Linked DNA regions of Homo sapiens: region 2 is linked to region 1. Evidence: fine-mapped expression QTL. A gene starts in region 1. The other region holds a variant in brackets. All regions are shown on one strand. Distances are from middle to middle.

Region 1 (16,284 bases):
TCCTTTGCAACTTCGTAACTTCTTCCTAGCCTCTGATTGGTTGCTTTCTGCAAAGCATGAACTGGCCAAAGGGAAACTTCTAGTGGGTACTGGGACCCAAGAAGATTGTGTATCCGTGCCCTTGAACCGCTGCTCGGATTGCTCCCACACTGTGGCGTGTACTTTGGTTTTCAATAAATCCCTGCTTTCGTTCTTTTGTTGCTTCATCCTTTCTTTGCTTTGCTAGGAGTTTTGTCCAATTCCTTGTTCAAAACGCCAAGAACCTGGACAACTTGCAGTCACTATCCTCTACCAGTGACAAAAGTATACAATTAAATAGCCTTTAGTATATTCAGAGTTGTATATCCATCAACACTACCAATTTAATAACATTTTCATCAACTTAAAAAAACCCTACCCCCTCATGTTACTCTCAAACTCTTATTAGCACCCAAAACATGCAACCATCATATGGTTTTGTCTCTATTGGTTTTCCTACTCTTTCATACAAATGGAATCATGCAATATGTGGTCTTTCATGTCTGGCTTCTTTCACTGAGCATAACTTGAGGTTCATTCATGTTGTGGCATGTTTCAGTATTACATTCCTTTATATGGTTGAGTGTTATTCCACTGTTAGGATATACCACATTTTGTTTAAGGAGATACCACATTTTGTTTATACATTCTTCAGTTTCAGGACATTTGGGTTGTTTCCATTTTTTGGCTCTTATGACCACTGTTGCTATGAACATATGTGTACCACTTTTTTTTTTTTTTTTGGGATGGAGTCTCACTCTGTCACCCAGACTGGAGTGCAGTGGTGTGATCTTGGCTTATTGCAACCTCCACTTCCTGGGTTCAAGCGATTCTCCTGCTTCAGCGTCCTGAGTACCTGGGACTACAGGTGCGCACCACCACACCCAGCTAATTTTTGTATTTTTTGTAGAGACAGGGTTTTGCCATGTTGGCCAGGCTGGTCTCAAACTCCTGACCTCAGGTTATCTGCCTGCCTCAGCTTCCCAAAGTGCTGGAACAACAGTCCTGAGCCACCACACCTGGCCCCAGTTTTAGTGTTGTGTAAACACATGTTGTCAGTTCTCTTGCATAAATAACCAGGAATAGAATGTCTGGGTCATAAGGAAACTCCACGTTTCAACTTTTGAGGAACTGCCAAACTCTTTTCCACAGCAGCTGCACTATTTTTACATTCCTACCAGCAATGTGGGAATACTTTTTATTTATCTATTAAATTCTAGCCATCCTAGTGGGTGTGAAGTGGTATCTCATTGTAGTTTTGATTTGCACTTGCCTAATGGCTAATTACATTGAACATTTTCCATGTGCTTAGTGGTTATTTGTATATCTTCTTTGGAGAAATGTCTATTCAAATCCTTTTCCCATTTATAAATAGAGTTTTTTGTATTTTTGTTGTTGCATTGTAAGAGCTCTTTATATATTGTGGGTATTAGATACTTATTGTATGTATGATTTCCAAATATCTTCTCCCATTCTATGATTGTCTTTCACTTTCTTGATAGTGATGCACAAAAGTTTTAAATTTTAATGAAGTCTAACATCCAATTTTTTCTTTTGTTGCTTATGATTTTTGTGTATTACCTAAGAAACTATTGCCTAATTCACAGCCATAAAGATTAATGCCTATGTTTCCATAAGAGTTGTATAGTTTCAGCTCTTACATTTAGGTCTCTGGTTGGTTTTGAGTTAATTTTTGTGTATGGTGTAAGATAAATGTCAAACTTTATCTTTTGCATGTGGATATTCAATTGTCTCAGCACTATTTCTTTTTTAAAAACTTTTTTTATTTAAATGGGTACATAGTAGGTTATATATTTATGGGGTATACAAGGTATTTTGATACAGGTATGCAATGTGTAATAGTCACATCAGGGTAAATGGGGTATTTATCACCTCAAGCCTTCAGCCTTTGTTATAAATAATCCAATTATACTAGTTATTTTATAATGTACAATTATTTTTGACTGTAATCACCCTGTTGTGCTATCAACTACTAATTCTTATTCATTCTATTTTTTGTACCCATTAACCATCTCCACTTTCCCCCTACTACCCTTCCCATCCTTGGTAATCATCAGAGAAGATATACAGATAATAAGAAAGCATATGAAAAGATGTTTAACATCATTTATCATTAGAGAAATGAGAATGATTGACTTTAGGGTTAGGGAAGAGAAATACAAGATAAGACTGGAGGATTTTGTAGCGGTAGAAAGTAAGAAAGTGCTACTCCCTCTTCCCCACAAAATGACAGGAGTTTGTCAAAGGGACACAGATGTCAACTGAAAAAGTTCCCAATGGCCAACACAGGAATAATCTGAGCAGTAAAATAAACAACATAGTATTGGATTATACCCAAAGTATAAAATAGGAATCCATGAATTCATAATATAAATAATTGAATAAATAGGAGATAACTGACAAATTTCTCATGCAGAAGAATGTAGATACTCCACCGCAAGGAGGGGAAATATAACTACTCACTTTTTTTTCTTTTGAGATGGAATTTTGCTCATCGCCCAGGCTGGAGTGCAATGGCAGGATCACTGCAATCTCTGCCTCCCAGGTTCAAGCAGTTCTCCTGCCTCAGCCTCCTGAATAGCTGGGATTACAGGCGTGCACCACCATGCCTGGCTAATTTTTGTATTTTTAGCAGAGACGGGGTTTCACCATGTCGGCCAAGCTGGTCTCGAACTCCTGACCTCAGGTGATCCACCCACTCAGCCTCCCAAAGTGCTGGGATTACAGGCGTGAGCCACCGTGCCCACCAACTACTCCCTTTTTAGGCATGGGCTGCACATAGTGACTTCCCACTAAACAGTAAAATAGGGGGAGGGGAAAGAATAACTTTACAGGGAGAAACCCATCAAATACTACCTCAGCCGGGTGATCAAGGTTAACATCAACAGTGATGAGCAATGTTGACAGCATGTGCCCCGGATATGATGTGATGACGGTTTTTGTATTTTCCCGTTCTAAAATTTCCATGGGGCTATTCTTTGTATTTTCTATTACTTCTCTGAGACTTTTAAACTTTCCATTTGAATAGCAGCTTTATAGTCTTGATAATTCCAACATGTGTGGCAACTTACATTCTGCATCTGTTACATTTTTTCCCAACGTGAGTTGAGATTTTCCTGGTTCTTCACCTGCCAATTAATATCGATTGTATCCTGGACATTTTGAATGTCATTAGGATGCTCTGGGTCTTGGTTAAATTTGGTGGAGGATGTTGATATTTATGTTTTAAAGGGTAATTAACCCATTTGGGTTCAAGTCATAAGTTTTGACCAGCCTTCTGAGGGTTGTGGTTCCAATGTCAGTTCAGTTTTCAAAGCCTTTGTAGTACTCTTCTGATAGGTCCCACATGGGTGGCACCTAAAGTGTAACCCAGGGTCCTTGGGTTTTGGGTACGCACTGTGAAAAAGTTACACACTTGTAACTGTTACATCTTGAATTTTTGTTTTAAAAAGTTCCAGGAAGAAGCTTAGCCCAGGAAAAACAAAGACCAGTTGGACCCAGAGATGCCTGAGTTGGAGATGAACTTTGGCCAACTTTCCTCATCACCATACTTAAAATCCTGTCCAAGGAGGAGCTTATTCACCATTTTCTATACATGTGACATATGTAGCAGCATAACCGACAACTGGGACTGCGCTGCCTTGACTCCACCTCTACATACAATGACTCAGCTAACCAGACTAATAAAAGCCATGTTTGCACCATTGCTCAGGGAGGCATTGCTTTGGGGAATTATTCCCAGTGTCCTCCTTACTTATCGCAAGTAATAAAATCCCCCTGGGAAATCCTCCTTGGTTGTGGTCATTGGACTGTCCCCTGCCAAGCAATTTAACCCATTCATTGTGTGGGTAACAAAAGGCCAGTCTGGGACATGAGATCTGGGTCTACAGTTTAGTTCTCAAAGTCTTTGGCATGCAATTTAGGACCAGATTCATCATACCAAAAAAGGGAGATAGTCTCAACAGAATTCTCAAATTACTTAAATATCAGAGGCAGTGTAGAGAAGGAGTACTTGGTGGTATGGTAGGTTTTCTGACAGGAAACAAAAGATGGAGGTAAAATGGAACCAGTACTTTCTTTCTGAGAATACTGACTGCACCAACCATAACATGAAGCGAAGGCTATATCTCCCTGAAGTAAGAAATGTAATAAAGGAAACTTTCAGAAATAATAGATCATCTGGAGATGTTGGGCAGTGTATTTGGTAAGTTATAACTACCAGGTATCAATACAATAAGCTTAGTTTGAATACAATAAGCTTAGTTTCTTTTTAAAGAATTTATCCTGCTCTGTGTTCTCTGAGCTCCTTGGATTGGTTTGGTGTCTTACAAATTTTGGAAATTCTCAGCCATTATTTCTTGATTTTTTTTTTTTTTTTGAGATAGAGTCTTGCTCTGTCGCCCAGGCTGGAGTGCAGTGGTGTGATCTCAGCTCACTGCAAGCTCCGCCTCCCGGGTTCACGCAATTCTCTTACCTCAGCCTCCCGAGTAGCTGGGACGACAGGTGCCTGCTACCATGCCCGGCTAATTTTTTTGAATTTTTAGTAGAGACGGGGTTTCACTGCGTTAGCTAGGATGGTCTCGATCTCCTGACCTCGTGATCTGCCTGCCTCGGCCTCCCCAAGTGCTGGGATTACAGGGGTGAGCCACTGCGCCTATTTCTTGATTTGATGTTGATATTTTCCCACCAGTCTTGGATGCTGTGTTCTGTTTCTGTCACTCTTTTTGTGTGTGTGTGTGTGTGTGTTTCAGCAATTTCTATTTACCTACCTTCAAGTCTGATTTTTTCCTCAACTGTGTTCAGTCTCCTAATGGGCCCATGGAGGGCATTCTTCATCTCTATTATTATATTTTTTATTTTTATAGTTTCCATTTTATTTTTCCTGATAGTTTCCATCTATTTGCTAAAATCACCCATCTGAGCTTGCATTTTGTTCACCTTTCCCCTTAGGGCCTTCATCACATTAATCACAGTTATTTAAAATTCTCTCATATTTCTAATGTCTATGTCTTATGAATCTGGTTCTAATGATTGTTTTATCTCTTTGGACTGTGTTTTTTCTTGCCTTTCTGTATGCGTCTTTTTTTCTTTCTGTTAAAAGTTAGTCATGTTGTATTTTTTTTGCTTAAATTATTTTTTCAATTCTCTCTTCACAGTATGAAGTAAAGATTGTTTTTATGCTTGGAGATGAGTGTGTCTTTCCTTCTGCTAGGCCTTTAGTGCTCTTGAGTGCATAGCAGTGGTTCGGTGGTATCAGTCTAGTCAGAAATTGGGCTAGGTTTACAGTTTGTTGTTGTGGTTATCCTCAGTGCACAACAGACTTCAAATTTCTCTAGAGATAGCTTATGTGTAGGGTGTGGACTTTATTTTGAAAGTGTGTTTTAAAGAGGTCTGTATGGATGTCAACTCGATGCAGAGTGGACAGTGGTAATTTTGTAATATATCAACTTTGCTAAGCTAAACTATGTTTCCCAGAATTTCCTTTCCTTTTGTTTCTGGTTAGAATAGCCCAACAGAGACATGGTTGTGTAAGTCTTGAAGGGGAGAACTGAAGCATCCCTCCAGTTTTATACTTGAAACGGTGGTGCAGGGACACTAGGTGCTACTGCGGCTCATCTACTTTGTCACCAATCAGCTGGTTCACCTTGTTGGGATGGGGCAGAAGCTTTTCCCTGAGTCTTCCTTCACCTTTTTTGATTCCTGAGCTGTGTGTGTGTCTAGTCCTGTGGCAAAAAGTGTCAGCTCCTCTAGCAAGGATACTCATATCTTTAAAGTTGGAGACAGTGAAAGAATGACCAGCTCGTGTCTTAGGTTCCAACTCATTTTTGCTCTTCCCTACTTTATGTTCATCTTCCCTTCTTAACTGCTTGCCCTGCGAACATAAAGAAACATAGTGATTCCACTTCTCTGAATGAACCTTGGCTGGTATACAGACTTATAGACATTTTGTGATGGAGAAAAATTGTTAATTAGGGAGCCTCACTTAGTAAAGAAGGAAGGTCATCTCTGGTATGGCAGGAATAAAGACATAAGGATTTTAAGGGATTTACCTGAAAAGATTTAAATGACTACTGTAAGGGGAATAAATACTTTGCAGGAATGCTGAAACTTCTCATTCAATACTTAGGTAAACATATAGACACACAGATGCCATAAACACTCATGGTAAACATCAGTAACTGTTAAGAGCATTCCTTCCTGCTTGGTCCCTATTAAAGAACCAGATCCCTTCTCCATAGAGTATTCCAATTTGCAAAGAAAATCCATTCATTAGTTGTCCAATTTAAATGTTTTAGAAATATTCAGTGGAACTTTCATCAATAACCCCCAAACAGATACCTCAAGAACCCCTTTTTCTAATCATTTAATCATACTACTTACTGAGAAAAATTATTATAGGAAAGGCAGTATTTGATATTGGGACATAAAAAGAATGAAAAATCTGTTAAATAAGCAAAAGCCCATTAGCCTGAGGCTGTCTTGGTACTTGAGTTCCCATATAACAAAATACAACCTGACTTAGTATGTAAACGAACTGAAGCCTAACTTACTTTATTTTTTATAACAGCTGGGTTTCAGCCAATCACGGCCGAGCTTCAGCAAATAACAGACAGCCAACTGATCAGACCATGCCCCAATAAGGCAAATGCCTCATCATATCATTGTCAAATAAGGCAGACACCTAGATGTTAGCTAATGAGGTGATTTCTCTACTTTGCTTCCTATAAAAGCTAGCAGGTCATACTGCTGGACAGAGCTCTCTGAACCTCTTTTGGTTCTGAGTGCTGCCCAATTCATGAACTGTTCTTTGTGCAAATAGCTTCTATTAAATTTGTCAGTCCAGAGTTTTTTTTGTTTTAAACAAATATTCACAAGAAAAGGAAGAAAGTGGGAAGAATAAAAAGCAAAGCACCTCAGAAACACAAGATCGAAAATCCACTTAAGGGATATAGATAATTCCCTGAAACAGGTGAGCATATTATTTGTTGAAAGCCTCCATGGATGTTCTTTGGGATAGCAAAATGGTTGCTACTTTTCAAATTGGATACCAAAAAGGCAATGTATCTGCATCTCAGAATCCAAATCATCCCCACGTTAGCCAAACTCCAGGCCTACCAACACAGATCCTTCAAGTCTTCCTGGCCTTCCAGGCCCCTAGGCTGCAGCTCGCCCAGAACTCCTGGGACTCTAAAACTTAAATCGGTCTAACCAGCAGGCGAACACAGACCTGAACCCTCAAACTTGGAAAGAAAGATCATAGGCACCTCCCCGGTTGGCTCCCCCAGGGACCACAACGTCCGGCTCTAACGCCTTGCCCAAGTCCTCTGTAGCTTTCCACAGGCATTTCTGGGTCTCTATAGCTGTTTGGAGGAGCCACTCACCGGTCCCGTCCTGCCCCGCGCCTAGGCCTGAACCAACCCCCTCGCGGTTCCGGCGCGGATACCCAGCAGCTTCCGGTCTTGCGCGCTCAGGCCGGGCAACGTCCGTGCGTTCTTTTTGGGTCCTGAACCCCGGAAGAGAAACTGCGTTGTACCCTTTTACGTGAGGCGGTGACGGCGGTTCGGAAGTCGTCTGGCCTCCCCGCGGCCGCTCGCAGCTTGCTGGCCTCTCCCGCGCCTCACGTCGGACTCCGTCTCCGCGGCAGGGAAGCAGCATGGAAGCTGAGGACATCCAGGAGGAGTTGACCTGCCCCATCTGCCTGGACTATTTCCAGGACCCGGTGTCCATCGAGTGCGGCCACAACTTCTGCCGCGGCTGCCTGCACCGCAACTGGGCGCCGGGCGGCGGCCCGTTCCCCTGCCCCGAATGTCGGCACCCATCGGCGCCCGCCGCGCTGCGACCCAACTGGGCCCTGGCCAGGCTGACTGAGAAGACGCAGCGCCGGCGCCTGGGCCCCGTGCCCCCGGGCCTGTGCGGCCGCCACTGGGAGCCGCTGCGGCTCTTCTGCGAGGACGACCAGCGGCCAGTGTGCCTGGTGTGCAGGGAGTCCCAGGAGCACCAGACTCACGCCATGGCACCCATCGACGAGGCCTTCGAGAGCTACCGGGTGAGCTGGCCGTCGCGGTGACTATGACGGGGCTGTCAGTGTTGCCCGATAAAGTTTACTTAATGCTCCTAAAAGAGCCACGAAGTGGCTGTCATTCCTACTGGAAGCATGAAAAGCCCCTGAAACTCAAAGAAGTTAAGCAAAACACGAATTTCAGAGCTAGGGTTAAAACTGGAATGAGAGGAGGGGAGGTGCAAACCTCAGCAATCATTGTGCAGAATTTTCAATAAACTGGCCCTTGGGGAGCTCATAATAAAGAAAAACATACTGAGAGGGTGTGTGCCGCTGCTGTCCAATAGAAACCACATATGTAATTTAAAATCTTTCTGGTAAGATAAGGAAACGAGGTGACGTTAATTGTAATAATATATTTTATTTAATCTGATTACCCCAAATATTCAAAGCTGAGATGAAAATTATCAATGAGATTTTTTTTTTTTTTCTGAGATGGAGTCTCACTTTATTGCCCAGGCTGGAGCACAGTGGCGTGATCTTGGCTCACTGCAACCTCCTCCTCCGGGGTTCAAGCAGTTCTCCTGCCTCAGCCTCCCGAGTAGCTGGGATTACAGGCACACGCCACCACACCCGGTTAATTTTTGTTTTTTAGTATAGAGGGGTTTCACCATCTTGGCCAGGCTGGTCTCGAACTGCTGACCTCAAGTGATCTGCCCCGCTTGGCCTCCCATAGTGCTGGGATTAAGGTGTGAGTCACCACGCCCGGCCTCAATGAGATATTTTATACTCCTTTTTCATAATAGGTCTGAAATTGGTGTGTATTTTACATTTACAACACATAGCAGTTTGGAATATCCACGTTTCAGGTGCTTGTATGGCTAAATGGATACTGTATTGGACAGTGCCTGTCTGTATCTGTAAATGTCATAGACAGCTGATGATTTGGGAAAAGCCTAGCTTGTAATGATGAGGCTGGGTTTTGTTACTAGCTTCCTTCATCAGTTGGGAAAATCCTGTAACATTTGAATTTGGGGATTATCTGTCCTATCTCATGGGTTAAGAAGCTCCGGTTGAATAAATCACTTTACCTTACTCTGCTTCAGCCATACTGGCTTTCTTGCTTTTGTTTCAAGTCTGTTCTCTTTCTCTACCCACATCTATCCTTTAGATCCTTTTAGCTTTTAGCTTGAAGACCTTCCCTGATCATCCTTTCCAGAGTAGCCCCACCCCCTCCCATTACTGATGGTGTAACTCCAGTGGTCTCCAGCAGAATTGATATGCAGTAAGTACATGAACACATGAATTTATTTATTTATTTTATTATTATTGTTTTTGAGATGGAGTTTCGCTCTTGTTGCCCAGGCTGGAATGCAGTGGTGAGATCTCAACTCACTGCAACCTCCACCTCCCGGGTTCAAGTGATTCTCCTGCCTCAGCTTACCGAGTAGCTGGGATTACAGGCACCTGCCAGCATGCCCAGCTAATTTTGTATTTTTAGTGAAGACAGGGTTTCACTATGTTGGTCAGGCTGGTCTCGAACTCCTGACCTCAGGTGATCCACCCACCTTGGCCTCCCAAAGTGCTGGGATTACAGGCGTGAGCAAGCTTTCCTGGCCAAACACATGAATTTAATGACACAGTGAAAATGTTTGGAAACTGTAAAATACTGTACAGTTGTACCAGCTGACTATGAACAGGAAACAGACACAAAGCTGGACTAGAAAGTGTATGTTCATTCCTTCACTCAGTAACGTTTATTGATGCTTACTATTTGCCAAACATTGTTTTAGAATCTGGACATAAGTGGATGAGAAAGACATGGGCTTTGTCTTGTAAGGAACTTAAGCGTGTACAACATTAATTTCAGTGTGTGTGAGAGTAGCTGAAGTATTTACCAAGTGTACAGAAGGTCTGAGGTCGGAGTGATCACTGAGGAGTGAGGAAAGGCTCCGTTGAGGAGTTAAATGTGTTAGCTCTTCAAGGGTGAGTAGAGGTAGGAAAGAAGGTATTTCAGGCCAAAGGAACAGCATATTCCAAATGTGGTGGAGTGGGATAGCATGTGGTGTGTGAGAGGACTGGAGGTTGCTCAGTACTTCTGGAGCATGGAGCATGGGAAGGAGGATGGTGGGCCATGAGCTTGAAGAAAAAGGCAGGGCCTTATCATGAAGGATCTTGTTTGCCATAGTAAAAAGATTGAACTTTCTCTTTCAGGCAGTGGGGAGTTATAAAAGGGTTTTAAGGCAGGGAATGATATGATCGTTTTTTTTGTTTTAGACAGGTAACTTTGACATCCACGTGGATGAATGGAAGAGAAGACTAATTAGGCTGCTCTTGTACCATTTTAAGCAGGAGGTAATAAAGACCTGAATTAGTTCAGGGCAGGGATGATGGAGAGGGAGGGATGGAGTGATAATGAGCTGGAGTTGAATGACTTGGTGATCAATTAGACTTGGTGGGTGAGAGAGAGAGGAGTCTTGGATGGTAGTTCAGATTTCTGCTTCAGATGGCAGGTAGATGACTGTCAGGTTAACTGAGGTAAGGTACACAGGAGGAAGCGTAGTCTTAGGACAGAAGATCCCATGCTTGTGGAATGTACTGAGTGTGAAGTAATTGTGACAGGAAGTCCAAGGAAGAGGGACAGGAGGTGGGGTGCCTTGGAGGCTAGAGATAATATTTTAGAATCCTCAGCCTGTTCTTGAAGTCATGGAAGAAGTAAGAAGATGAGATTCTCCTAGGAGGACCACATAGAGAGTAAAAAAAGGCACAAAGAGAAGCTTGGGAAACACCAATGGTTGGTAGCCAGCAAAAGACATGGAGAGGACCCATCAGATAAATGGAAGGGAAAATACACTTGTGGGTGGGGGCCGAGGGAAATATAAGTGGATGGGTATGAAAGGGGAACATAGCCCTTAAATCTTCCATCTTCAGCAGTAATAGCTATCAGTTGTTCATTACTTCTTACGTACCACCCACAGTTCTAAGCATTTTTCATACTGTAATTCTTTAATCTTCATAGACATCCTATTAGGTGGATTCTGTTATTCCCTTTTTGAAGATGAGGCAACTGTGCCACAGAGATGTGAGGTTACATGCCCCCGAGGTCACAGAACTAGGAAGTGGCTATGCTTGAACTGAGGTCTTCTAACCCCTAATCCTTTACACTTTTCACTCTGCCACAACTAATCTGAGAAGACTTCTTAGAAGAGGTGGGATTTCAGGATTAAACACAATGGCCCAACAGGACAGGAGTGGATGGGTAAGGGTTACACTGGGATGGGCTGAATGTCACAAGGTTGACTTCGTAGGTGTTCAGGAGCCAGGTCACTGGGCGGAATTCCCTGATATCCGCCCATCTCTCCATCCTCCTCTGCTTAGTCACTGCCCTATTCAACCACCTTTCATTCCATCCCCACCCCAAGTTAGTTAGAAAAACATAAACTGCCCCTGGGTGAAGCTGCTTTATTTCCAAGCATCCCATTCTCAGCATATACTCAGATGGATGGACTGTGTTTTAAAAGTTGGATAGCTGGAAGTTCCCTAAATCCATGGAAAATATCCCCATCCTATACCCGTTATGGTGAGGGGAGAAAAAGAGAAAAGAGAAAGAGAAATAGCTTCATAAATCTCCGGATGCAAATTGTTTGCATGGAAAAGGCCTCCAAGTGCAGCTCTTTTTTCCTTCATGCCTGACTCTAGGAGCTAATCCCTCCATTCTGTTAATTAATTTAAGATGTTTATTGAGCACTGGCTTTGTGTCAGATGCTGTGGCACGGCACCAGATGCAGCACTGGGAATCCAGTGGTGAACAAGACAGGTAAAGGCTTTCCATGGAGCTCACAGTCCAGTTGGGCTGAGGGTGGGAGGTAGATAGCAGACAGACAAATAAATGAAATAATCACAGATGGTGATGGCATGCTGGGAAAGAAAAAGAAAGTGCTATCCTAGGCCAGGCGCAGTGGCTCACGCCTGTAATCCCAGCACTTTGGGAGGCTGAGACGCGAGGATCCCTTGAGGTCAGGAGTTTGAGACCAGCCTGGCCAACATGGTGAAACCCTGTCTTTACTAAAAATACAAAAATCAGCTAGGTGCGGCGGTGGGCACCTGTAATCCCAGCTAGTTGGGAGGCTGAGGCAGGAGAATTGCTTGAATCCGGGAGGCGGAGGTTGCAGTGAGCCGAGATCATGTCACTGCACTTCAGCCTGGGTGACAGAGCAAGACTCCGTCTCAAGAAAAAAAAAAGAAAAAAAGAAAAAAAGAAAAAGTGCTATGCCAGAGAAGGGAGCAGTCTTCTCTTAGGAGGTGACATTGCAGCTGAAACTTGCTGGATGCAGAGTCTGCCATCTGAGGAACTGTGGGAAGAGGCCCTGAGGCGGGGGAGAGCTGGATATGTTTATGGGGTAGGAAGAAGGTCTCTGCACCTGGAGGACCAAGAGCAAGGGGAAAGGTGGCATGCGATGTGAAACGAGATGTAGGCAGCGGTCAGCTTATGTTGGGCCACAATGAAGTGTTCAGATTTTCTTGGTGAAGAGGAAAGCCAGTGAAGAATCTTGAGCAGGAGAGTGACAATATCTGATTAGTTTTTAGAAAAGTTATTCCAAGGCCAGGTGTGGTGGCTTATGCCTATAATCCTGGCACTTTGGGAGGCTGAGGCAGGAGGATTGCTTGAGTCCGGGAGTTCAAGACCAGCCTAGGCAACTGTGAGATCCCATCTCTACAAAAAATACAAAAATTAGCTGGATGTAGTGATGCACATCTGTAGTCCCAGCTATTCGGGAGGCCGAGACTAGAGGATCACTTGCACTCAGGAGTTCGAGGCTGCAGTGAGCTATGATCGTGCCACTGTGGCTGCGTTGTGGATATTGTATGAGAGAAGGACATGACTGTAAGTAGGGAGGGCAGTCGGGAGGTTATTGTAGTTGTCAGACAAAAGATGATGGTGGCTTCAACTAGCGGTGGCAGTGGGGTTTGGCATGTAGGTAGATTTGAGGTATATTTCCAAAGTACACCTACCAGCTTGGATCAATTGCAGAAGTTACAGTGACTGAAATTCATAGAACTCAAGAGCTGGGATGGTATTTAAGAGACATTTGGTCCAGTTGTCTTCATTTTATAGTTAAGGAAGCCTTGATCCAGGAAATAAGCAAGGCTGACTTGCTCACAGATGCACAGCTGGTTTGAAGGTCTAGAGTGAAACTAAGATCTTTGGAAGTTTAATGTTGTTTGAGCTACATGATCACAAGTCAGTAAATGTCTTCATTCTATAAAAGTATGCTCTTTTATTACACTTGTGTTTTCATATACGTATAATTTTCTGGTGCTAAATTAAGAGAAAGTGATTTTTAAAAAAATTATTATTTTTATTTATTTATTTATTTATTTATTTGAGATGGAGTCTCACTGTGTTGCCCAGGCTGGAGTGCAGTGGCGCGATCCCAGCTCACTGCAACCTCCACCTCCCGGGTTCAAGCGATTTTCCTGCCTCAGCTTCCTGAGTAGCTGGGATTACAGGCGTGTGCCACCATGCCCGGCTAATTTTTTTTTGTATTTTTAGTAAAGACGGGGTTTCACCATGTTGGTCAGGCTGCTCTGGAACTCCTGACCTCGTAATCTGCCCGCCTTGGCCTCCCAAAGTGCTGGGATTACAGGCGTGAGCCACCGCACCTAGCTGAGAGAGTGATTTTTAAAATTTCTGGTATTTCTAACCCAGATTGAAATGCTTGGTGTTGCGCTCCTGCCACCTCCTGGCAGTTTCTGTTGTTGCAGGGAAAGTGTTTTCTAACTTCCACCAAGGCTGTCAAGTTAACTCACCTCCCAGTTTAGATTCCAACTGTGGCCAGATTGAAAAAAACTTGGGTAGAGTCTTGAGTAGTAGAACCATATGAGAGAATTCATGCATACTGACTTGTTAAGGCTTTTTAAGACATAGAAAATCTCTATTTAGTAGATTATTATATTTTTCATTATCAAGCAAAGTGAAAACTTTCAAAAACTTGGTCCTATTTGAAGGAACTAATATATATCTCATTACAAACCTCATATACATCAAATTTGACAGTGACCACAAAGCGGCAGTTATAATTGAATAAAGTGAAATTACATGAGAGAGTAGCAGGGTTACATGCCTATTAAAGTTAACTACTAGAGATAGTAAATAGATGATATAATGTTAGGAAACATCATGGTAGAAACAGAATAGCACAGATGGTATTGTGCCATTTAACAGAACTGTATGAATCCCTTTTATAATTTAATTTTGTTTTCCTATTTCATTTTACCATGAAAATTTCAAGCATACATCAAAGTTGGAAGAATTTTGTAGTAACACCAGTGTACCCACATGTAGATTCTACCATTAACATTTGACTCTTTTATCACATAGCTGTCCATTTGTCTGTATCTCTCTGAATACATCAATTCTTATTTCCTTTTGATGCTTTTAAAATTCAATTGCAAACAAAATACTTCAGCATGTATATCATTAACCAGATTTAACATTTGTTTATGGTATTATTTTTTTTTTTTAATATGTAGAGTCTCATTCTGTTACCCAGGCTGGAGTGCAGTGGTGTGATCTCGGCTCACTGAAACCTTTGCCTCTGGGTTCAAGCGATTCTCATGCCTCAGCCTCCCAAGTAGCTGGATTACAGGCTTGTGCCACCACACCTGGCTATTTCTTTTGTATTTTAGTAGAGACAGGGTTTCACCATGTTGCCCAGGCTGGTCTCGAACTCTTGGCCTCAAGCTGTCCACCTGCCTTGGCCTCCCAAAATGCTGGGGTTACAGGCGTGAGCCACCGTGCCTGGCCTATGGTATTTTTTGAGGTAAAATTTAATACCATGAAAAACACAAATCTTAGTTGTACATTTGCTGAGCTTTGACAAATGCCCTTCTCAAGATAAAGGATATTACCATCCAGAGAATTCTTTCATGCCCTTTCCCAGTTATTCTCTGCACCCTTCCCCTACCAGGGCAACCACCGTTCTGATTTTTTTTCAAACACAAATTAGGTTTTGCCTGTTCCAGAACTTCATATAAATGGAATTCCATTGTCTGTATGGATCCTTTTGCTCAGCATATTGATTTTGAGATTTATCCATTTTTGTATAGGTTGGTGCAAATGTAATTGCGGTTTTTGCCATTATTTATCCACCTTCCTATCAATGAATACCTGGACTGTTTCCAGCTTCTAGCTATTGTGAATAAAGCTGCGATGAATATTCTTGTACAGGTCTATTTATGGGTACATGTTTTCATTTTTCCAGGGTCTAGGAGTAGAATTGCTGTACCCTAGGATTAATGTATGTTTAGTTTTACACTGAACCTTCTTCCAAAATGGTGGTAGCATTTCATTCGCCTGCTAATGTTGTGTAAGAGTTCCAGTTGCTCCATACCCTTGCCAACTTTGATGTTATCAACCTTGTCAGTTATTTAACTTGATTTTAACCATTGTCACTTGTAAATGATTGGATGAAAAGTTATACCTATTAGTAATTGTTAGTTTTCTGGGGAAGAATTTAAAAAGTTGTACAGATTATTTTTTAGTTCTAATCATTTCTTTTCTTTTAGTTTTTTAAATTTATTTTTAATTTTTTTAATTTTTTGTTTATTTTGACATATAGTGAGACTTACAGAAAGTTGCCCAGGCCACCCTCCAGCATTTGACACTATTCACTAGTTTTGTAATTTAAATGGTCTCTTCCTTTGGCATAGGAGAAACCATTCTCTCTTGGTTTTTCACCAACTGCTCACCTTAGCTTCTTTGCAGGATTTTTATTTTCTACATACTGCTTAAATGTAGTTGTTGCCAGTTCTAGCCTTGATCCTCTTACTCTATAGAATCTTACTGGGTGATTTTACGCTCACCCAAGGCTCCAACTGCCACCTGTGCTTTAATCCCGAAATCTGCTTCTGCAGCATAGATCTCCTTCCCAACTCTAATTGCTAACATATCCACTTGGATGTCCCACAGGCATCTCAGACTCAATTTATTTAGGTGAAATTTATTTTCCTTCCTCCCATTTACACACTGCTCTTCTTCCTATATTTTCTAATTTGATAAATAACCTGCAGTCCATCCAGTTACTTAAACCACAACTGAGGGGCTAAATCTGGACCCTTTCCTCCTGCAGCCATTTGATCATCAGTTCCTGTGGGTTTTTCTCTTGTGTGTTTCTCTAACATTTCTGCTTCCATCTCTGCACTCGCAGCTGACATCCTACTATCGGGTGCTGCCCCTCAGCCCA
Region 2 (13,208 bases), 21 kb after region 1:
GTAGTTTTAGTAGAGATGGGGTGTCATCATGTTGGCCAGGCTGGTCTTGAACTCCTGACCTCAAGTGATCCACCCACCTAAGCCTCCCAAAGTGCTGGGATTACAGGCATGAGCCACTGTACTCATCCAGATAAAGCATTTTCCTGATAACTAGTGAGATTGAGCACTTTTCATGTGGTAATTAACCAGTTTTTTTAAAAAAATGAACAATTTAGGTTTACCAAAAAGTTGAGAAGATGGGACAGAGTTCCCACATACCCCTTCACCCAGTTTCCCCTATTGTCAACATCTAGTGTTAATATAGTTCATTTGTTACAATTAATGAACCAGTGATACAGTTTACTAACTAGAGTTTGTAGTTTATTTCCATTTCCTCAGTTTTTACCTAGTATTCATTTTATTTTCTAGAACCACACCCAGGATACCAGATTTCATTTGGTTGTCATTGTCTCTCCTTAGGTGCCTCTTGGCTGTGACATTTTCTGAGACTTTTCTGGTTTTTGATGATCTTGAAAGTTTTGAGGAGTGTTGGTCAGGTATTTTGTAGGATGCTCCCCTATTGGAATTTGTCTGTTTTTTTCTTGATTAGGCTGAGTTACAGGTTTTTGGAGGAGCTGTATTTTTTAAATACACGTTGCCATTGGTTACCTGATATGTTACTTAGAATTTTCACATCTATGTCTTTAAGTAAAATGGGTCTGTAATTTTTTTCTACTGTTTCATTTCATGGCTTAAGGAACAAGGTTATAATAGTCTCTGAAAAATCAGTTGGGAAAATTTATATTTTTCTCTTTTGTGTTATAACTTAGGGTATTTTCAGTTCCATAAAGTTTAGTAAAATTCACCTGTAGAAAATCTCTTTGGACTTGGGCATGATAAAATATCCCTTGCGATTATAATTTAAAAGCAATCTTGTAAAACAACAGGAAGGAGAAGAGTGGAAGCTCAAAGCTGGAGCTGCTGAGGACCCACCAAAAGGCACGCAAAGGAGCAGGCTCTGTGATTGAGACTAGTTGGGGAGGCCGGCAGGAAGCCAGGAGCCAGTTTATGTCATAGTGCCAAAGGAGAAAGAGGAGGGGCGCAGGCAGCATTGTCGAATAAGTGCAGAGGGGCCACGTGAAAGAAAGGACCAGATTCTGTCAATCTGTTGGCTTTGGCAGCAGGAGATCATATGTGACATGAGCAAATGCAACCGTCAGAAAATACCTGCTCACACAGTTGTATTCCAGGTCTCCAGGAGAAGGTTCGTAATTTGCTTATGTCTTCCTTCTTTTCACAGAATCCAAAAGAAGTGTTGACCAGGTATGCACTCCTGTTCTCTTATGGGGACCTGGGTGGCATGGTAAAGATACAGGCTGAGCAGAGGGGAAACAAGGCCTAGGATCCATAGGTCAGTCTGGGCACACCCTAATGGGGGTCTGAGGAAAAATTCTCCTGATTGTTTCTGGGAGGAGGAATGGGAACAGAAGCCATCTGAACTTTGGGCTAAGAACCTTTGACCGGGAGTGGAGGTCTTGGCTACCCTAGTTGTCCCCTAAGAGCAGTCTTCTCTACCTTCTTAGGAGTGAGATCCAGGATGTGAACTATTCTCTTGAAGCTGTAAAGGTGAAGACAGTGTGCCAGATACCATTGATGAAGGAAATGCTAAAGCGATTCCAAGGTGAGCAGAATTTCTAGGACTTGGGGCTCCTTAGAAATCTTTCAAATAGGAGAATAAAGAGAGAAGTCTGGAGAGGAAAGAGGAAACAGCATGCAGCTAATAGAGTGTCAGGAAAGGTGGTTAATAAATGGGTATACACTTCATTCAAGAAACATTTATTTAACGCACTGTTACAAGGTGCTAGTGATACAAAAAGAAGAGACCTGTTCACTTCTTCATGAGTTCGTAAGCACATTGGAGAGACAGACACACAGCACTCACAGTGATATAGTAGGAGCCAGTGTTTGCTGGTGGTAGGAATAAAATGTTACAGAAATTCAGAGGAAGGGCTCTGTTGGGGGCGAGATGGGAAAGTTTTCACAGCAGAGGCGACAGTTTTGAGATTTGAGGGATTAGTAGGAGTTTGGCAGGTGGAAAACAGGGATGACTGTTTCAAGCAGAAGCAGCAGCATGAGCTAAGGTGTGGAGAACATGGAGGGGTGGGTATCCAAAGAGGCTAAAGAACAAGGTGTATTTTGAGGAAAGGTAGAGGTTGAGGTTGAGAAGAAGAGTGTAGGACAGACTGAAAATAAACTCATTGGATCTCCAGGGAGGCACCAAGGCAGGTACATGCTCTAGAAGCTGTGCTGGTGATTCTTATGTGCACATGTTTGATTAAGAACCATGTTGTAGGCCGGGCACGAAGGCTCATGTCTGTAATCCCAGCACTTTGGGAGGTCGAGGCAGGCGGATCATTTGAGGTCAGGAGTTCGAGACCAGCCTGGCCAACATGGTGAAACCCTGTCTCTACTAAAATACAAAAATTAGCTGAGCATAGTGGTGTGCACCTGTAATCCCAGCTACTCGGGAGGCTGAGGCAGGAGAATCGCTTGAACCTGGGAGGTGGAGGTTGCAGTGAGCTGAGATTGTATCCACTGCACTCCAGACTGGGCGATAGAGTGAGACTCTGTCTCAAAAAACAAACAAACTAAAAAGAACCATGTTGTGGGTGTTCACTTCTAGCCAAAATGGAGTAAATAAACGAGTTGTTTTCTTGTCTGCAGCAACTAAAATAAAAACACAAAAACAAAACAGGCACAATATGTGAAACAACCGTTTTCAAAGCACCAGACGTCAGGCAGTGAAGGACGGTGATTCCTGAGAAATGTGAAACAAATGAGGTCAGCCTATGATTGCCCTACCCTCTGCCTGAGGGAGTTTCCAGACCATGTAAGGCTGAGGTAACTGAGGTAGAGCCAGGGAGACTTGCTGAGTTGAGGAATAGACCTGGGAGTTCACGGAGAACAAAGTAGTGAGAGTTCGCAAAGTACTGGGCAGTATCCTGGAGCGGAGAGAGCCGGACACAGAGAGAACCCTCGCCATCTATGGAGGAGCTTCCTAGTTGTTTGGCAGAGTTCTGATCAGCACATGCCTGTGAAAATCTACTCAAGGCTGGAGATAGAAGCTTCTAAAACGATTAGAGGGAACGGTTCCTGGTGCTCACACAGGGCCAGGAACAGTGCCAGTTCCTATCAGCCACACCAGAAAACTCGTAGTTCACGGGCACTGAGTAGCGTACTCAGGAAAATCTTGCCTCATTAGCAGAAAATATTTAGCCCTTGACTGGGTGCTGCTCCACACCCACCTTACAAATCATGAAAGCAAGACCCAAAGGGGTCAAACTCTTTCCAACTAACTTAACTGCATCCCAGGATAAAGCCCTAGAAAATTGGTAGAAATAAACAAAAAAAGAGCACCTAACAATATAAATTCACAATGTCTGGCATCCAGTCAAATATGCATGCAAAAAGATAGGAAAGCAGTGACCCATAATGGAGGAAAATAATCAACTGAAACTGACCTAGAATTGACACAGATGTTAGAATAAGCATGGAAGGACTTTAAAACATTTATTATGAGTGTATTCTGTAAAGAGGTACATAGAGACCAGATCAAAGTTTTAAAGATGAAAAATGTGATTAAGGCGAAGAATGCACTGGATGGGATTAATAGTTGATTAAATATTACAAAAGAAAAAATTGGTGAACTTGAAGACAGAGCAATGGAAACTACAAAAAAATGAAACATACACAGAATAAAACAATTTACAAAAACACAAAGAGCATCAGTGACCTGTGGGACAACTTTATGCAGCCTTATTATCTATGGTGATTGGCGTCCCTGAAAGAGAGGAGTGGGGAGGGAGATGGAATAGGAAAAATACTTGAAGACATAATGGCCAAAGATTTTCTGAATATAATAAAAACTAAGTCCACAGATCCAAGATGCTCAACAAACCCTGAGTATGAGAAATATGAAGAAAAATATGCCAAGGCTCATCATAACTTGCTGGAAACCAGTGTTAAAAAGAAAATCTTAAATGCAACCAGGGGAGAGGATAGTTACTTGCAGTGGAACAAAGACGAAGTTGACATTACACTTCTCATTGGAAACAATGCCAGTAAGCAAACTCTTTAAAGTCCTGAAAGAAAAAAACTGTTAACCTAGAGTTCTAGAACTGGCAAAAAATATCCTTCAAAAACAAAGGTGAAATAAATAAGTTTGGAGGTAAACTAAAGCTTAAAAGAAAGAGTTTACAGCAGACTGACACTTCAAGAAAGGAAGTCTTAAAGGAAGTCCTTCAGACAGAAGGAAAATGCCAGATGGAAATCTCTCTACACAAAGGAATAAAAGAGCACCAGAAATGGTAATGACACGAATAAATATATATTATTGTCATTATTTATTCCTTTAAAAAGGAATTGCGATGGTAAGTTTATACATCAACTTGACTGGGCCACAGAGTGCCCAGATATTGGTCAAAAATTATTTTGGGTGTTTTTTTGAGGGTGATTTTGGATAAGATTAACATTTAAGTCAGTAAGCCTGTGTAGACTGCCCTTCATAATGTGGGTGGGCCTCATCTAATCAGTTGAAGGCTTGAATAGAAAAAAAAGGCTTGACCTTTCTGATGGATTTCTAAAGCATACTACCTTGGCCTTCACTGCAGCATTGGCTCTTCCTGCCTAATGGCCTTCCAACTAGAACGCTGGCTCTATCTGGGTCTTGAGCCTGCCAACTCACACAGCAGATTCGGACTTGTCAGTAGCAATAATCACACAAGCCAGTTCCTTATATTAAATCTTATACACTGGCTGGGTGTGGTGGCTCACATCTGTAATCCCAATTCTTTGGGAGGCTGAGTTAGGAGGATTGCTTGAGGCCAGGAGTTTGAGGCCAGCCTGGGCAACATAGTGAGACCCTGTCTCTACAAAAAATAAAATAATTAGTGTGCTGGTGTGTGCCTGTAGTCCCAGTTACTTGGGAGGCCACGGCGGGAGGATGGCTTAAGCCCAGGAGGTTGAGGCCGCAGTGAGCTGTGATTGCACCACTGCACTCCAGCATGGGCAACAGCGAGACCCCATCTCAAAAGAAAACCCAGAAAACTCACAGGTGCATGCATGCACGTGTGCGCACACACACCCACCCACCATACACAGACACAGACATATATATCCTTTTGGTTCTGTTCCTTTGGAGAACCCTAATAATTGACTATTTCAACAGACAAAATATGGTGTATTTTGGAACTTATATTTAAAAGTAAAATCCATGACAGTAGTGTGAAGATTGGGAGAGGAGAGATGAAAGTATACTATGATACAGTTCTCATGTGTGAAGTGGTATAATATCACTTGAAGGGAGACTGATAAAAAGGTGTATACTTGTGCCAGTCCCCTACTGACTTCATTAAGGATGGCACCGTGTCTGAAAGGCCGAAGAGGAGATCTGGAGTAGTGAATGAGACATGGGGTTTATTGAAGACCTACATGCAGGGCAGTCCAGGAATGGCCAGCTGGACAGGAAAACAAACCACTGCTATTTGTAAAAAGCATGCAGGTTATATATAGCATTTTCATTTAGCAATCTCCACCTGGGACCTTCCATTTAACCCAAAAGAAAGGGCCTCGATTCCCTGTATTGCCTGCATTCCAAGGAATGGACCAGGAGTTCACATGGCCTTTATAGATGAGGAGTGCATTTCTGGGTTGGCCACTCCTGGATTCTTTAGCTCAGAACTCTGAATACACAGTCTTCTTAGACCATAGGGTTATTCTCAGGGTGTGCTGGAGTTACTGCTGTCAGGTGTGTCTGCCGTACACTGCAGTCCAGCATACCCTTGAATGGCCCCCACATTCTTATCACGTCATTCTCTGCAACTTCCCTGAGGCAAGGTATGTGCAGTAGCATTGCTGCCAGATGCTGCAGCAGCGTTAGAAACTACAGCAACAAAAGACAATGACAAGCATAGTAGCAATCATACTCTACAGAAAGCTTTTCCAAGCACTTGATAAGATAGAGAATTTTTACTGAAATATGGGTTTCTAGGGTTCACATAACCCCGGTTATAATGTGAGAGTAATAGGGATATATACACAACATTTGGTTTTAATTAATGTGCAGCTTCCACCCAGGGCAGCAGTTAAGATATCCAGGGCCATGCGATTTTACACAGTTGCCCAGTGAGAAGAGTAATGGCATGGCACAGGTATCCTTGAAGGCTGCAGCCATATGTTTAGCGAGGTCTCCAAATTGCAACTCCAGAATGCACACTTCTGGAAGTGCCTGGCTTTTATACTCTCCCAGTTAGTAAGAATGGTGTCTCAATGGGACAGAATGTGTCCGGCAGGTGAAGACGACCCCAGGTGCATCTACCAGCCCAATTTTAGGGTAAGTAAGGCCAGCTGTGGTTGCCGTCTACCTGTAGCCATCCCCAAGGGGAGGGCATGGGCCCCTACGTGGAGACAGTTACTGTGCCACCCTAGCCACATATTATTGGCTATTTGAAGGGATTGGTTGCATTGCTGTGGGGGTAGCCACCCCACATTAAGAGTTTAGCTTGTGACATGCTATTATCATGCCTTTCAGTACATAAGGGTGCATGACTTACTACCTGTATCTGCACTCTTGTTACTCACCCTTGTCCATCGTGTATGGAATACCCCACAGCTGGGGTAGCACTAACCTGCTCCCATACTAGGTGGAAAATATGTCATCTTGTCTCACTGATGGTGGGAAACGCACTGCATAATGTGGTGGTGGTGCTGAAGGGAAGTGGGTGAGACTTATCATGCCAAATATAGACATGGCTCCAGGTACTCAAGTTAGCAGCATGGATGCCCCATGGCAGGCCCATTGTGGAGGAGAGGGGCAACTCTCTGCAGACCCAATAGTCTGTTGTGTTCTGGAAAGAGGTCACCATGTGCACCCAGTTGGTGAAGCGGTTTGCTGCACCCCATCTGTGGGCAACAGGTGAGATGTTTAGTGGGTACAAGAAAGGGGAAGCCATTTAGTAAGACACAGGAAGTTGTGTCATTCTGAGAGCACCACCCCTGGCAGTGGCCTGGCGCCTGGTTTATAATACAAAGTGGATTGGGCCCTTTGCAATGCTTTGCAAGTGGCCAGAGTAAGACAGTGGGGGGTATTATAATGTTCTATAAGAGGATGATTGTCCCCTTGCACAAGGAAGACTGGGATTCATTATTTTGGAAATACAGGGGGTTGGGGAGTAGGATGTAAAATAGGTGTGACCTGTATATTCTTTTCTAGGCCTTTCCCCCATGGAGTGCAAGAACCGACTTGAGAAATCTTTTGTTCTTTTTTTTAGTTGCTACATAATAATTTTACATATTTATGAGGTACAGTGTGATGTTTCAATACATGTATACAGTGCATAATGATAAAATCAGGGTAATTAGCATATTCATCACCTCAAACATTTATCATTATCTGCATCGGGAACATTCAAAATCCATTTCTACTAAGTGGGAGAGTGTAAAATCCCAGGGAGGGTGGGATCGACTGTCTCCCACTCTGTTTGAACTTACTTCCCAGCTTCACCATTTCCACAGCGGTATAATCCTGCATTGTGGTGGTCTGCCTTCTTTCAGGTGGAGGCAAGTCTTGTAGGGCTACCCTCTGTGGGTGTGGTTGGTCTTCTTTTATCTTGGTAGTGACCATCAGACATGCTGAGAGGATGGGAACCTCTATGGACTCATCCCAGTCCTCATCCTCCCTGCCACTAGATCTCTTCACGGGGTCCCAGGACTTAGGGTTCCAGGACAATTTAGTCATGATAGTCCTAACTCCATGTGGCAGTCAGTGACCCTTCAAACAGGCTATGCAACAAACCAGTGTCTCCATTTTGTCATCCTGTTCCCACAGGTGGGACAGAAATTAGCCTGAGCTAATATCTCCCTAGTTGCAGCTCATCTTGTAAGTGGTACACCCTTGCCTGTGCCACAAGCTCAACCTTGGGGGCTGCTCTAAGCACAGTCAGGACTGGCCGGCCAACTGCAGCTGCCACAGCTTGGGCATTTGACTTTCCCTTAGTTGGATCCACCCCCTGCAGCAGTTCTTCCAGAACTTTTGGCATTTTGGGGGTATCCCCATACTCACCTGGTGGGCCCCACCCATCAAGGATAGTGGCTATTGGGCCCCACATACATGTGGACAACCAGCCCAGGATTTCCACCGTGGATTCTCCCCTGATCCCATTGTCTTGGCACTCGTGGAATTTTCTCCAACCTCCTGCTGGGCTAATTGTTGTGCTAGACCCCTATTGATTTCAGTACGGATGGCACTGTGTCTGAGAGGTGGAAGAAACCTGGAGCCGGTGAATGAGACATAGGATTTATTGAGGACTTATATGCTGGGTGGTCCAGGAGCAGTGGGCTGGACACGAAAACCAGTTGCTACTGTTTGTAAAAAGCATGCAGATTATATAGCATTTTCACTTAGCAACCTGCTCCTAACAACCTCCATTTAACC[C/T]GAATCAAAGGGCCTTGATCCTCTGTACAGCCTGCATTCCAAGAATGGGCCAGAGGTTCAGATGTTCAGATGTCCTTCCTAGAAAAGGAGCAGATCTCTGAGTTGGCCACTCCCACATTTCTTAGCTTGGAAGTGTGAACCCACATTCTACTTGGACCATAGGGTCATTGTTAGGGTATGCTTGAGTTATTGCTGTCAGGTGCATCTGCCATACGATACCATAAACCTTAAACCACTAAAATAAAAGAGATGTAGCTAGTCAATAAAAGGAAATAAAGTGGAATTATAAAAAAAGATTAATAAAAAATAAGGCAGAAAAAGAAGAAAACATATAGGACAAATAGAAAACAGCAAAATAATAGACACAAATCTAATCATACTAATAATCACATTAACTATAAATGGTCTGCATGCGCTAATCAAAAGGCAGAAGTTGGTTGGATTGGCTAAAAAAAAAAAATAAGACCCAATTTTTTACTGGAAAAGAAACACATTAAATATGAAGAACCATATACGTTTAAAGCAAAAGAATGGAAAAAGATATGTTAATAGATCTGGAGTGGGTATATTAGTATCAAAGTAGATTTCTGAGCAAAGGATATTACCAGAGATAAAGAATGTTATATCCTAATGATAAAGTGGTCAGTTCGTCAAGAGAATGTAAGTTCTAAACATTTCTGCACTTAACAGTGCTTCAAACATATTAAGCAAAAACTAATAGAGCTGCAAGAAGAAATACACAAATTCACAATTACGTTTGCAGTTTTCAGTACCTTTTAATAATTTTTAGAATAATTAGGCAATAAATCAGCAGGGATATAGTAGACTTGAATAATATTATCAATCAACTTGATCCCATTATTTATAGAACACTCTACCCAACAGCTATATACTACATATTTTTTTCAGTGTACGTGAAACATTTTCCAAGATAGACTAAGCTGGCTGTAAAGCAAGTGTCAAATTCAAAGGATTCCGATCATTCAGAGTATGTTCTCTGATCACAATGGAATTGATAGAAATCAGTATCAAAATATCCTTAGAAACCCCCCTAAATATCAAGAATCTAAATAATAGACTTTTTAGTAACCCTTGAATTAAAGAAGAAATCAAAAGGCAAATTAGGAAGTAGTTTGAATGGAATGAAAAGGAAAAGACAATATACCAGAATTTGTGGGATGCACCTAAAGCAAAACTTAAAGAAAAGTGTATAGTGCTATATTGGAAAGAAGAAACTTCTCAAATCACTGACCTCAGCTTCCACCTTAAGACACTAGAGAAAGAGGAGCAAGTAAAGCCCAAAGTAAACAGAAGAATGGAAATAATAAAAATCAGAGCAGAAATCATTGCAGTGAAATACAGAAAGCCAACAGAAACCAATGAAACCAAAAGCTGGTCCTTTGAGAATTTCAGTAAAATTGACACACCTTTAATCAAAATGATCAGAAAAAAAGAAAACACACATTACTAATGTCAGAAATGAGAAAGGTGACATCATTACAGATTCTGCAGATATTAAAAGGATAATAGAATATTAAGAGCAACTTTTTGCCAATAAACTTGACAATATAGATGAAATGGATGAAGTCCTTAAAAGACACAAATTACAAAAGCTGACTCATGAAGATAGAGATAACTGGAATAATCTTATTTCTATGAAAGAAATTGCTATTAGAAACCTTCCAAATGGCTTTCGTTTTGTTTCTTTTCTTTCTTTTCTTTTCTTTTTTTTTTTGGGGGGGGGATGGAGTCTTGGTCTGTTGCCTAGGCTGGGGCGCAGTGGTGCAATCTCAGCTTACTGCAACCTCCACCTCCCAGGTTCAAGTGATTCTCCTGCCTCAGCCTCCCAAGTAGCTGGGACTGCAGGTGCGCGCCACCATGCCTGGCTAATTTTTGTATTTTTTTTTAGTAGAGATGGGGTTTCACCATGTTGGTCAGGCTGGTCTTGAACTCCTGACCTCGTAATCCACTGCCTTGGCCTCCCAAAGCATTGGGATTACAGGCATGAGCCACCGCGCCTGGTCCCCAGATGATTTTCTTGGTGAAACATTTCACCAAACATTTAAGAAATAAATGCCAATTCTTCAAGAACTCCTATTGAAAATTGATGAAGAGGGAATATTTCCCAATTCTTTCTGTGAGGCCTGTATTACCATGATGCCAAAATCAGACAAAGACGTCACAAGAGAAAAGAATTATACATCAATGTCTCTCATGAACATAGATACCTAAATTCTCAGAAAACTTTAGCAAATTGAATCCAACAATATATTAAAAGGATAATATGTAATAATCACAACCAATTTATATATCCTTTGGTATACAAAAAGGATAATGTATAATAATCACAATATGTGAGATTTATCCCAGAAGAGCATAGTTGGTTTAATATTTGAAAATCGATGTAGTTTATATCACTAAAGTAAAAAAAAAAAAAAAAGGAAAACCATGTGATTGTCTCAGTGGAAGCAGGAAAAGCATTTGTCAAACTCTAGCATACATTCCTGATTTTTTTTAAAAAAAGTCCTCAAACTCAAGAGACATGGAGAGTTAGAGGGAAGGGAATTTGGAGTCAGGGAGGCCAGGGAGGACATTATTAACACATTGAGTGACACTGGAGATTGGAGTAAAGGCAGTGGCAATGGGAGTGGAGGGGAGGAAAAGAACCTGAGTGACAAATTTCAGAGGTAGAATTGGTAGGACTTGGTGACTAACTAGCTATTGAAGGTTAGAGGAAAGAGTCGAAAATAAAGATTTAAAAGCATGAGTGTTCAGGTGGAGGGGACTCTGACACCTTAGAGAACATAGAAGGCAAGATGTCTGCATATGAAGTGGATTAGTCCCGAGAGTATAGAAGGGGGTGTAAGTAAGATAATTAGTTCAGTTTTGAATGATCTGTGGGGAGATTTGTGGAGATGCCCCATAAACAACTGGAACCCGTGAAAAGAGACCTCATTATTCTGTCCTATGTGACACCTGTGTGTATCTAGCCAAAGAACCAGCTAGTCGGCAGCCTTGGTTCTAGTTTTGATTCAACGTGAGAATTTGTTAATATCTCTCCAAATTTTAGGCTGTTTGTGAAAACTTGGGGCATGAAATAATTAGATCCCCAGTTTCTAGAGGTTAGTCTTTTTTTTTTTAAAGATAGAATCTTGCTCTGTCACCCAGGCTGGAGTGCAGTGGCACGATCTCGGGTCACTACAACCTCCGCCTTCTGGGTTTAAGTGATTCTTCTGCCTCAGCCTCCCCAGTAACTGGGATTACAGGTGCCCACCATCATGCCGGGCCAGTTTTTTTGTTTGTTTGTTTTTTGGTATTTTCAGTAGAGACGGGGTTTCGCCATGTTGGCCAGGCTGGTCTCACTCTCGTGACCTCCAGTGATCTCCCTGCCTCAGCCTCCCAAAGTGCTGGGATTACAGGCATGAGTCACTGCGCCTGGTCTAGGGCTTAGTCTTTTAGAGCAGAAGGGAAATGAGGACTTCAGGTTGCTAAAGGCCATGCTGTGGCCTGCTAGGCCTGGCTGAGGATCAGTTGGGCAGCAGTGGAGTCATGAGTGTTTGTTAGGAGGAGAAAGATGAAACTGATGCTGGAAAAGATGGGCATTTCTGGGGAAGGGTTGATGATAAGCTGCTGCACTACTTAGCTCTCATTTTCTCCACAGTGGCTGTAAACCTAGCTGAAGACACAGCTCATCCCAAACTCGTCTTCTCCCAGGAAGGGAGATACGTGAAAAATACAGCATCAGCCAGTTCTTGGCCAGTGTTTTCTTCAGCATGGAACTACTTTGCTGGATGGAGGAATCCTCAGAAGACTGCTTTTGTAGAGAGATTTCAGCACTTACCCTGTGTTCTGGGAAAAAACGTTTTCACCTCAGGGAAACATTACTGGGAAGTTGAGAGTAGAGATAGTCTGGAGGTTGCTGTTGGGGTGTGTCGGGAGGACGTCATGGGAATTACTGATCGTTCAAAAATGTCCCCAGATGTGGGCATCTGGGCGATTTATTGGAGTGCTGCTGGCTATTGGCCCTTGATAGGCTTCCCTGGAACTCCCACCCAGCAAGAGCCAGCTCTCCACCGAGTGGGGGTTTACCTGGATCGTGGGACTGGGAATGTCTCCTTCTACAGCGCTGTGGACGGAGTGCACCTGCACACCTTTTCTTGTTCTTCTGTCTCACGCCTCCGGCCATTTTTTTGGTTGAGTCCATTAGCATCTTTAGTCATTCCACCAGTGACTGATAGGAAATGAGGCTTTTCTTCCCCTGACCAAAACTCCTTCCCTGTAGTCCAGCTGAGGGACACACATCCCTGGGCCCTCTTCTGCCCTTCATGTCTCTATCCTGGATGGTCCATCTTCTGGGTCTCCCTAACGGTACCGTTTGGTATCTGCCCTTTGTGTGCTTCACAAGAGGCAGTCCCATGGGAGGTGGGTCTGGCCAATGGAGATGGGACAGGAAATTTTCCAAGACGCTTTTGGGAAATCTTTTTGTAGCTTTTAAAGAGATGTGCGGGGAAGACATATGGATGTTAGCAGCCATATTGGAACTGAGAACACAGGAATGGTGGAAAGGTAGAAGAAACAGAGTTTTTGTTGCCGTTGTGAAATTGTTGAAATTTCCTTCATGCCAAGCTTCTTGTTATATGAGATAATTACGCCCTTATTGTATAAGACAATTTTAGTTGTATTTGGTTACTTGCAGCCTGAAGTACCGTAACTGCACTAAAGGGACGTAGTGTGAACA

What was found.
Region 2: its variant is fine-mapped to the expression of TRIM4 in whole blood (INTERVAL, PIP above 0.99).

The regions. Positions count from the first base shown.
Region 1 is chr7:99,910,811-99,927,094 of GRCh38, reverse strand. It overlaps TRIM4 (tripartite motif containing 4), which reads left to right and starts at 7,565. Exons shown (of 6, transcript NM_033091.3): 1 at 7,565-8,086. The coding sequence starts at 7,694. LOC101927610 (a long non-coding RNA gene) reads right to left here and starts at 7,492. Exons shown (of 2, transcript XR_001745296.3): 1 at 7,268-7,492; 2 at 1,781-5,911. It overlaps GJC3 (gap junction protein gamma 3), which reads left to right. Exons shown (of 2, transcript NM_181538.3): 2 at 3,492-3,829. The coding sequence ends at 3,550. RefSeq lists enhancers at 7,194-7,303, 7,544-7,623, 7,654-7,703 and a silencer at 7,834-7,993.
Region 2 is chr7:99,891,670-99,904,877 of GRCh38, reverse strand. TRIM4 (tripartite motif containing 4) reads left to right here. Exons shown (of 6, transcript NM_033091.3): 4 at 1,280-1,302; 5 at 1,563-1,660; 6 at 12,132-13,208. The coding sequence ends at 12,715. Among named protein-coding and RNA genes, the nearest start is that of OR2AE1, 21 kb to the right of the region's middle. The variant C/T (reference allele first, on the strand shown) is at 8,471.